Regions from separate parts of the Homo sapiens genome. Here region 2 is linked to region 1. Evidence: fine-mapped expression QTL. Tissue or cell type: whole blood. Region 1 holds a variant in brackets; the other region holds the start of a gene. All regions are shown on one strand. Distances are from middle to middle.

The links. PIP is the estimated chance that this variant, and not a neighbour inherited with it, causes the effect.
Region 2: it holds the start of SPACA6, and the variant in region 1 is fine-mapped to the expression of SPACA6 in whole blood (INTERVAL, PIP above 0.99).

The regions. Positions count from the first base shown.
Region 1 is chr19:51,750,112-51,755,311 of GRCh38, reverse strand. FPR1 (formyl peptide receptor 1) reads left to right here and starts at 3,434. Exons shown (of 2, transcript NM_002029.4): 1 at 3,434-3,498. The variant A/G (reference allele first, on the strand shown) is at 2,022.
Region 2 is chr19:51,690,595-51,695,723 of GRCh38, reverse strand. It overlaps SPACA6 (sperm acrosome associated 6), which reads right to left and starts at 2,394. Exons shown (of 9, transcript NM_001316972.2): 1 at 1,984-2,394; 2 at 1,169-1,246. The coding sequence starts at 2,197. It overlaps SPACA6-AS1 (SPACA6 antisense RNA 1), which reads left to right and starts at 2,268. Exons shown (of 2, transcript NR_108100.1): 1 at 2,268-3,090. It overlaps MIR99B (microRNA 99b), which reads right to left and starts at 3,112; the gene lies at 3,043-3,112. MIRLET7E (microRNA let-7e) reads right to left here and starts at 2,938; the gene lies at 2,860-2,938. It also overlaps MIR125A. RefSeq lists enhancers at 4,119-4,928, 4,929-5,129.

The DNA of each region.
Region 1 (5,200 bases):
CAGAGAACGTGAAACAGCAGATAGAGAGGTTTATGTAATTACTAAGATATTGATAATACTTATTGCACTGGAATTCATGCCAAGTGCTTTGTATCACTGATCTTATTTGTTCTGCTCCAGAAAACACCTCTGTAAGTATCATTGCTCTCAATTCACAGGTGAAGTGTCTGGGACCCAGTGCAGTTAAATCAGGGGTCAAATCTAGCCACCGCTTGTTTTTGTATGGCCTGAGAGCCAAGAATGGCTTTAATATTTCTTACCGGCTAAAGAAAATCAAATGAAGGGTATTTTGTGCCATGCAAAACTTATATGAAGTCCAATTGTCGTGTTTTAAATAAAGTTTTATTGACATACAGTCATGCTCCTCATTTACAACTTTGCTTGTGGCTGTTTTCAGGCTACAACAGCAGAGCCAAGGAGTTGTGATGGAGACCCTATGGCCTGCCAAATGAAATATATTGACCATCTGGCTCTTCATAGGAAATGTTTGTGGCCCAGTGCAGTGGTTCCGTCCTGTAATCCCAGCACTTTGGGAGGCCAAGGCAAGTGATTGTTTGAGGTCAGGAGTTCAAGACCAGCCTGGTCAACGTGGCAAAACCATATCTCTACTTAAAAAATACAAAAATTAGCCAGGCGTGGTGGCGGGCACCTGTAATCCCAGCTACTGGAGAGGCTGAGGCAGGGGAATCACTTGAACCTAGGAGGCAAAACTGCAGTGAGCCAAGATCACACCACCGTACTCCAGCCTGGGTGACACAGTGAGACTCTGTCTCAAAAAAAAAAAGTTGGGGGAAATGTTTGAGACCCCTGGATTAGCTGGCTTGTCCGGAGCTAGTGAACAGTAGTCCTGGGATTCTAGTCCAGGCAATCTGGCTTTACCACCTCAGTCCAGTGCTTTACTGGGAGGCTGTGCTGCTCGCCGAGGCCATTTCTCATGTTTCAGTTACCAGAAGAGTCAGGGACTTTTGCAGCATAGGCAGGAATACTCCCATTCCGGTCAACCCTAAGACATCTTCCCTTTTAGCCTTACGCAAACACAGAAGTGGAAGTCCATTTTAAGACTTTCGCTTTTTTCTTCACCATAGTCACTTTGGAACACACACTTGGCTCTATTTTTGCCCAACCTAGTGTGCTAATCACAGGCCATTTGGTAGCCAGGAAGAAAACCTACTTATGTTTTAGAAAAGAGGGCTCATGGGAAACAGGTAGGGGTGTCCCAGGACCCCCGTTTTAGGAAGAACAGTCAGACTTCAAAAGACCTACAAATTTTTCTGGCAATTACTCTCTGTGGAGTCCCTTGTCTCTTGTTTTCTCTTGACATTTGGGCCCTTCTCCTCTGTGCATAATGATGTCCTCTGCCATTCCCTTTATTTTAATCCCCTTACAAAGTGTTGGCTTCCATGTGACTCCTAGGCACGTCTTCATTTGTTACCCTTCATACCTTGGGAATCTTCTAAAATGCATCTGTTGTTATGATCCCAAGAAAATGTTTATAAAATACAAACACAAATGTTTATAAAGTACAAATGAACATATCACCCTTCTGATTAAAGATCTTCAGTGATTCTCCATCTCATCCCCATCCTCCTGGTGTGGGATGCTGGAGTGTAGCAGTCCCCAACATTTTTGGCACCAGGGACCAGTTTCATAAAAAACAATTTCTCCATGGGGTGGCGGGGTAGATGGTTTCAGGATGATTTAAGCACATTGCATTTATTGTAGACTTTATTTCTATTATTATTATTACATTGTAATACACAATGAAATAATTATACAACTCACAATGATGTAGAATCCGTGGGAGCCCTGAGCTTGCTTTCCCGCAACTAGACAGTCCCATCTGGGAGTGATGGGAGACAGTGACAGATCATCAGGCATTAGATTCTCATAAGGAGCACACAACCCAGATCCCTGGCATGCACAGTTCACAGTAGGGTTCACACTGTTATGAGAATCTAATGCCGCCACTAATCTGACAGGAGGCAGAGCTCAGGCAGTAATGCCAGCAATGGGGAGTGGCT[A/G]TAAATACAGATGAAGCTTCTCTTGCTCACCTGCCAGTCACCTGCTGTGCAGCCCACTTCCTAACAGGCCACAGACCGGTATCGGTCTGTGTATTGGTCTATGGCCTGGAGGTTGGGGACCCCTGCTGTAATGTGAAGTCAGGAGCTGTGGTAGCTTTCTTGGAGCCATGAAGTGGCAATCCCCAGGAAAAAAAGTCACCATATTAGGGATAAAAAAGAGAAAAGATTAAAATGAATGTAGTTCTTGATGATATTTTCCAGATATAACCTAACCTAGTATTACCCTCTTGCAAAATTCTTGTAAAGTAAACCATAAATTTCGTCTTGGTTCTAAGCTAAGCTTGTCCAGCCCATGGCCTAAGATGGCTTTGAATGCAGCCCAACACAAATTCATAAACTTTCTTAAAACATTATCAGATTTTTGGGGGATTTTTTTTTTTTTTTTTTTTTTTAGCTCATCAGGTATCGTTAGTGTTAGTGTATTTTATGTGTGGCCCAAGACAATTCTTCTTCTTCCAGTGTGGCCCAGGGAAGGCAAAAGATTGGACACCCCTTGTTGAAGCCATTGTTAGGTGTAATTGTAAATTATAAATTACTTAGAATTAAAAACAGCCCGGCTCATGCCTGTAATCCCAGCATTTGGGGAGGCTGAGGCAGGAGGATCACTAAACCCAGGGGTCTGAGACATGCCTGGGCAACGTAGCAGGATACTGTCTCTAAAAGAAAAGAAAAAACAGTCTTAATGCAACAATGCCTTGGTAATAATGCTTTTAGAATCAGTGTCGTTATCTCTGATTCTGTAACTGTCTTACCATATTTCTCCATATCACTCTGATACCCTTGGAAGGATGCTTAACATTTCAGAAAAACGGTTATTTCTTTGGGCTAGAAGACTACAAATGAGCTTCCACAAGATCAGAGGATTATGGGGTTAATCTTGGTGGTGTGCATGGGTGTGGACGCGCTGTCCTGCCAACTGTCTCAACTTCCCCCACTCCCTTACCTCTCTCTGTGTTTCTGGTCTCCATCCCTCATGACTTCTTCTCTTCCTTTCATTGCCTCCCTCTGATTCTTCTCACCACAGTGCTTGCTGCTTTCTTTACCTTGACCCTTGGAGGGAGCAGGGGCCCGGACACTTGGATTTCTTGGCCCTTGTTGTTGAGAGCACTGAACCTCTGCATCCCACAGAGACTGAGGCTGAGAAATACAGTCAGGTACATGAGTTTCTAAACAGGCCCAGCCCACTGTCCTAATGCCATTAAAGCAGACAGTATATTGGTGTATTCTTGGGGCCATCAAAAATCAGAAGAAGCTCAGACTTCCTATTTCCTGCTACCCAGCTGGTTTTAGTTCCTTTACCCCTCCTCCTGTTCCTTGGTGTATGTTTTGCTGCAATCATTAGAGCCTGAGTCACTCTCCCCAGGAGACCCAGACCTAGAACTACCCAGAGCAAGACCACAGCTGGTGAACAGTCCAGGTAAGAAACATATTCTGGGGGACTGGGTAGCTTGACATAGACACACTTAATACACTGGTGAACACAATAGACTCTTTGTTTGAAGAAGGATGTGGAGTTGAAGAATAATTTTTTTAAAGAGGTTCTAAACAGGCCGGGCACGGTGACTCATGCTTGTAATCCCAGCACTTTGGGAGGCCAAGGCAGGTGGATAACTTGAGGTCAGGAGTTCGAGACCAGCCTGGCCAACATGTTGAAACCTCACTTCTATTAAAAATACAAAAATTAGCCAGGCGTGGTGGTGGGCGTCTGTAATTCAAGCTACTTGGGAGGCTGAGGCAGGAGAATTGCTTGAATCTGGGAGGTGGAGGTTGCAGTGAGCTCAGATTGCACCACTGTACTCCAGCCTAGGTGACAGAGTGAGACTCCATCTCAAATAAATAAGTAAATAAATAAATAAACAAATAGGCTCTAGACTTTATTGGGGTCCTGATGGGAATGATGGAATATAGAGACACTATGAGGCTGCAGGAGAGAGAAGGGATAAGTGAAGGAGGGAAGTTCTTGAGTAAATGGGGGAATGAGTTTTATGGGACCAGTAGAGGGTAATTCTTGGATGGAAACACTTGTTTTCTGGTTACAGAGATGAGGGCAGAGAACAGTGATGCAGGAGCCAGCAGGAGGAGAATCTGGTGGAGCAAGAGGCAAGGGCATCAGCTTGAGGGCTTGAGTCGGGATGGGAAAGGATGTTTGGTTTGAAGCTTTCAGGAGAAAGCAAAAGAGCCCTAACGACTTTATGATGGGTCATGGGGAAATGAGTGTAATACAGAAGCAGTCACCTTTCGGATCAGTGATGAGTCTCCACGTGAAGACACTGGTTCTGCATGGTGCATAGGACCCAGTAGCGGAATACAGCCCTGCCCTCTCATGAATCTGCAGACATTGGCTGTCATTTCTCATCAAGCTCCTAGTTTCCTCTTCCGTCACACAGGGATGATGATGTATAATCAATGCTGAGTTTGTTGAGATCAGAGGCAAGAAAGTTGAGGATGTGGTACAATGATTATCAAGCATAAAGTCCTTCATCGATGGCAGCCACCAAGGCCTGTGTTCATTGCAAATCACAGGATTTTTCCCTTGAACCATAATTGGACAAAATTGCACAGGTTTTCCTCTCTGGTATGTTCCAGCTCATTATTGCAGAATCCTCATCATTCATTGCAACAATCTTCTGAACTGGTTGCCTTAGAGATTCTTGAGGACAAAGAGTCCTCAGGGTATTTTGGTGGTTGGATGGGTGGTAGGGGAGGGAGACATCTCTGAGTTGTTTCTGAGATTGTAGAGTATCAAAGTTCATTAGAAATGTGAGACACATATGTAATTTCAAAGTGTCAAGTAGGCACTTTAAAAAGGTGAAGAGAAACATGCGAACTTAATTTTAATAAAATATCTAACCTAAACTTAAATAGCCAAATTATTATCATTTTAACATGTAGTCAATATAAAAACTATTAATGAGATGGTCACAATATTTTTTTCATACTAAGTCTTTGAAATCTGATGGGTATTTTACTCCTACAGCCTGTCTCCAGTTGGACTAGCCACAATTCAAGTGCTTGAAAACCACATGTGGTGAGTGACTAGTGCATTAGACAGCTCTTCTGTGCCAGTAGCGTGGCAGGGCAGAGGCAGAAAGAGACTTTTGCTGGAATTCGACAGCCTG
Region 2 (5,129 bases), 60 kb after region 1:
GATCCAAAGGTTCCTCATCTTTTCAAAAGCTTCTGTAACAAGGCAGCCTATGTGGGGAGAAAGGGCATTTCTTGGAATCCTGCACACCCCCACATGGAGAGGTTTAGGGCCTCAGGTCTCCCTTTAGGGTGGAGATGGGGAGAGCCACAGCTGAGGCCTTCTCCAGGCTGGCCCTGGATGCCCCCTGGGTGGATGGGAACCTTCCCTCTTCCGGGATTGTTGACAGGACGCTTGGAGGGCAAAGCAGGAAGCAAAAGGAGCGACTGTGGGTGTGGGAATAAGCCCTGAGCTCCTGGACCTAAGAGGAAGCCAGTTTATTCTATAGCGCAGGGCTCTGTAACTCCTGCAACTCCGAGCCTCCACAGTTCCAGGGTCTGGCACCTCGTGGGGATCATGGCCATGGTGATCAGGCATGATTACCGCCCATGCTGCCCATCGGCATTGCGTGGCCCCCAGCCCTGAGGTCTCTTCGCACAGCCACACACCTCAAGGCTGTCACATGTGCCTGTCTCACCAGGACAGTCACACCTTGTCTCTTTTCACTGCTGTCACCTGAGTGATCCACTCTGCTGTTCCTGTTTTCCCGCCCTCTAATTGCCTCACACCTCAAAAATGTGGAATCACTTTATAAGAAATCTGTGTGTGTGTGTGAGTGTGAGTGTATGTCTCTGAGCGTGTCTGTGTGCGAGTGTGTGTGTGTTCTATCCTAGAGGAAGATGCCTTCCCTAAGATCAGGCTCATCAGGCAGCCCCAACCCCTGCACTGAGCTCCATGGCCATCCTAGGAGGCAAGAAGATTGTCCCACTTTACAGATGGGTAAGTTGAGGCCAGGAGAGGGGCAGTGACACACCCAGAACTTCATAGCCAGTAAGAGTGTGAGCCATGCAGCCATGGCAGAACCTATGCCTACCCGACCCCATCTGGACTTCCAGCTCTAGGCAATTTCTGCAGCGTCCCTTCCCCCTCACCACCTTCAGCCCCTGGCTCTTAGAGCTGCCTTCAGCCTTCGTTTGGACAAGTAGCTGAGCTCAATGTCTTCCCAGCTTTCCCCTCCCGGATCACTGCCCAACTCTGGGGGCCTCCTTCCTCTGCCCTGGGCCCTCCCACATACCCATTTCTTAGGGGCTCCAAGTCCACATCTCCCATCTCCCCATCCCCACACACTCACCCTGGGCAGCAGCCAGCTCCTGCAGGGCATGGGTCATCTGGGTGAAGGTGTCATGCAGGTGGCTTCTCTCATCATAGTCTGGCGGTGAGGGAGGGAGCAGGGGCTGGGGGAGGCAGCTCCCCGCAACACCATGTCCCTAATGCGAACATTCTGTTTCTGAGTCTCTGCCCTCCCAAGTCTGTATCCTCCCCTCTCTGACTCTTTGCCCCACAGTCGCTATGCTTCCTGAGTCCCTCCCAAGTCTCTATCCTCCCTGAGTCTCTGCCCCCGACCAGTCGCTATCCTGCTTCCCCTAGTCTCTGCCTCATCTCTGTCCTCCTCTCTCTGGGTTTCCATCCTCTTTGAGTCTCCATCTTCCACCCTCTGAGTCTCCATCCTCCCCTCTCTGGGTCTCTATTCCCTCTCCAGTCTCCAACCTCTCCTGACTCTCCATCCTCCCCTTTCTATGAGTCTCCATCCTCCTGACTCTCCATCCTCCCGAGTGTCCATCCTCCCCTCTCTGACTCTCCATACTCCTGAGTCTCCATCTTTCCGAGTCTCCATCTTCCTCTCTCTCTGAGTCTCCATCCTCCCCCTCTCTGAGTCTCCATCTTCCCCTCTCTGACTCTCCATCCTCCCCTCTCTGAGTCTTTGCCCTGCTGTCTTCCCCTGTCTGTGTCTCTCTGTCCCTAAGTCTCTGTTGTTCTCATGGTCTTTGAGCCTTTCTCCTCTGACTGTTTCTCTCTGTCTGTCCCTCAGCCTGACCCTCTGGGCCTCTCCTGCCCTCCCTCTGCACCTTCCCCAGGACACTGATGAAGTGTGGATGGTCTCCTCACTGATTTCGGTGTCAGAGAGGCCCTGGAAGGCGGCCGTGAAGGCCTCCTCACACTCTTCAAGCTTGGGGCTCCGCATCCCAACAAACATCTGGCAGATGCGGAGGCGCTCAGAGTAGGTTGTGAAGCAGAGGAGACAGGCCCAGGCGGGCACCCTGAAGACAGCCAGGGCCAGCAGGGCAGACGGGACGGCACTGGCCAGAGCCAGCAGGGCCATCGTGTGGGTCTCAAGGCCAGGGGAGAAGCTAGTAACCTTTATGAAGTCACCACAGGGCGGGGGAAGGGCCAGTGGTCTGGGGTCAGAGGTCAGGTTTCAGTTGGTGGTCAAATGTCATGCTCTGGAGGAAGGGTATGAGGAGTCAGGGGTCAGAAGTCAGGCCAGCAATTCCCCAGGTGTGTGGTTGGGCCAGACGCCAGGCTCCCAAGAACCTCACCTGTGACCCTGGATGTCCTCACAGGTTAAAGGGTCTCAGGGACCTAGAGACTGGCAACATGGTGTGCGGTGGCCCGGTAGACCCTGGGGTGGGGGTCAGAGATGGAGATAGGCACAGAGACATTCTGAGAGCCAGAGACAGAAAGACCAAAAACGACAGAAATAGAGACACAGAGAGATATCGGGAGGGGCAGAGACCTAGAAAGCCAGAATAAGAGGGAGTCAGAGGATCCACTGTGAAAGAGACACAGAAGCCACAGAGACACAGCAGAGATGGAGACAGACAGGGAAGGAAAACAGATTTCAGGGGAAGGAGGGGATGCAGGGACAAGGACAGAAAAGAGCCCGGCTCTTCCTCCCAGGGTCCCTGGGGCAGCCCAGTGGGGCTAAGGGTCCCTGAGTGGGGCTGGGGGTCCCCGCCGGGCCCCGTCCCGTGCAGGGCGCAGCCTGGGGAAAGCTAGGAGGCCGTATAGTGATCTCCTTGGGTGTCCTCCTCAACTATACAACCTCCTACCTCAGCCCGGGGGGCGCGGCAGGTGGACAGACCCGACAGACAGACAGACAGGGACCAGGAGGACCAGGGATGAGGGGGAGGGCCGGGGAGGCCCCAGCCGCGATGGTGAGCCCCCGACACGGACCCACAGACACGAGCTTGTGTGCGGCGAAGGCCCCGCAAGGTCGGTTCTACGGGTGGGTGCCAGGACCCAGGAGTCCGGGCCCCCGGCCCCTCCTCCCCAAGGAACCCAGGAGTCCAGGCCCTCAGCCCCTTCCTCATCAGGGACCCTGGAGTCAAGGCTCTCATCCCCCTCCTCCCTAAAGAACCCAGAAGTCTAGGCCCTTCCTCACCACAGACCCAGGAATCCAGGCCTCTGGCCCTTTTCTCCCCAAATGTTCCTGGAATCCAAGGACTCAGCCCCTTCCTCCCTCAGACTCATGAGTCCAGATCCAAAGCCTCCTTCTCCCCAGAGACCCAGGAGTCCCTGCCCCCAGCCCCTCCTCCCTCCGGCCAGGCAGGCCTCCTGGGGAAGGCATGGCCTGATAGAAAACCTGGCTTCCTGGGTGCCGGCTGGGAGGGAACCTCATTTGTCTCGTAATTTGGCCCTTTGGGCACACCTGCTTCCTACCTACCCTCCTGTCAGTCTGCAGAGACTCCAGGCCCAGGGCTAAGGAGGCCAGGGGCTAGCCAACCATCAGAGCCTCCCTAGGTGCTTTCTTTCCTCTCTCCTCCCTTCTTTGGGTCATTTACAACTATGACAGCCACAATCTCCCAGCGCTGACCCCATACCAGGCCCTGAGCACCAGTCCTCTCCCTGACACCTCCCACTCCAGAGAGCGAGGTGCCCTCAGCATCCCCATTTGGCAGGTGAGGGGGCTGAGCCTCAGAGAGGGGAAGAGGCTCCCAAAGTCTGCCCAGCCCCATCTCTGTCCTCCCTCTTGAATCCAGGAGGTGTCCCCAGCCTTCTCCAGCTTCTGGACCCCGGGACCCAGCACCCACCCTCCCCACCCCTGGGCTCTGAGCCCCTCCAGCTGGGGTCTCTCCCGTGCCCAGCCCCTCCTCCTGGACTGTCTGGTTCTCGCTGCCCCTGCTCCAGGCGCACCTTCCGGTTCCTTTCTCGCAGTCCAGGTCTCTCTGGCCCTGCCTTTTTCTCTCTCCCTCTTTCTTTCCACCTTCCCTGGTTCCCAGCCTCCTCCTGCATCAGGACATCCCTCCCTGGCTCTGCGCTGGCTTCTCTCTCTGCCCATCGCCTCTCTCCTCTCCCCGCTTCTGTTTTCTTCCTTCTCTCCCCCTCTTTCTCCTGCTTTTCCTCTACCTTCTGTCTTTCATCCTCCCCTTCTCCCCCTTCCCCCTCTTTGTCTCTCTCATTCTCTCTCTGGCCCTCTCTCAGTCTCTCTCCTCTTTCTCACCCTTCTCCACCCCCTTTTTTCGGATGTCTTTCCTCACTTCCTCTCCCTCCGCCCCTTCCCTCTCTCCATCCCTCACCTCCGTCTCCTGCTCTCTCTCAGTCTCTGTCTCTCTCCCTCTCTCTCTCCTTCCCTCCCTCTTAGGTCTCTCTCTTTCCTCCCCTCCCCCTTCTCTCTTTGGGTCTCCCTCCCTTCTCTCTCTCTCTTTTCTCCTTCCCTCTCTCCCTCCCCCTCGCAGCTCGAGCCAGGTCTGGAGCTGGGGGTGGGGTGGGGGTGGTTTGAGAAGGGGCCCAGGGCTGGGGTAGCGACCTGAGGAGGGGGAGGAGAGGCGGGAAAGGGGCGGAGGAGGAAAGGGGGAGGCGGGGGCCGGAGACGGGTCTACGGCCAGCTCTCTTCCCCCTTCCCTCCTTCCCAACCTCCCAGACCCTCAGGCGGGGGCGAGAGTCAGGCCAAGGTGGGGAGGAAGGGGAAGGGAGGAGGCTGCCCCCGCCCCCACCCCCCCACACCAACCTGGCCCGGAGCCCAGGCCTGGGTTCCCAGCATGCCCCGGGGCTGCCTGGGGCCTGAGGAGGAGGGTGAGGGGAGAGGGGAAGCCGAGAATCTCAGAGATTCCCCGGACCTAAGCATCTCCCCCACCCGCCAACCAGTGTCTCCTTGGGGAAACTGAGGCGGAGAGAGAAGGGTCAGGACTTGTTCAAGGTCACTGGACAAGGCGTTGGTGGAAACGCGAACTCCCTGGGCCCATAGCCCCGCTTTGGGGAAGGGGTAGGCTCTGGACTTCCCCCAGGCCTAGGTCCCCCTCCCCCTCTCTGCG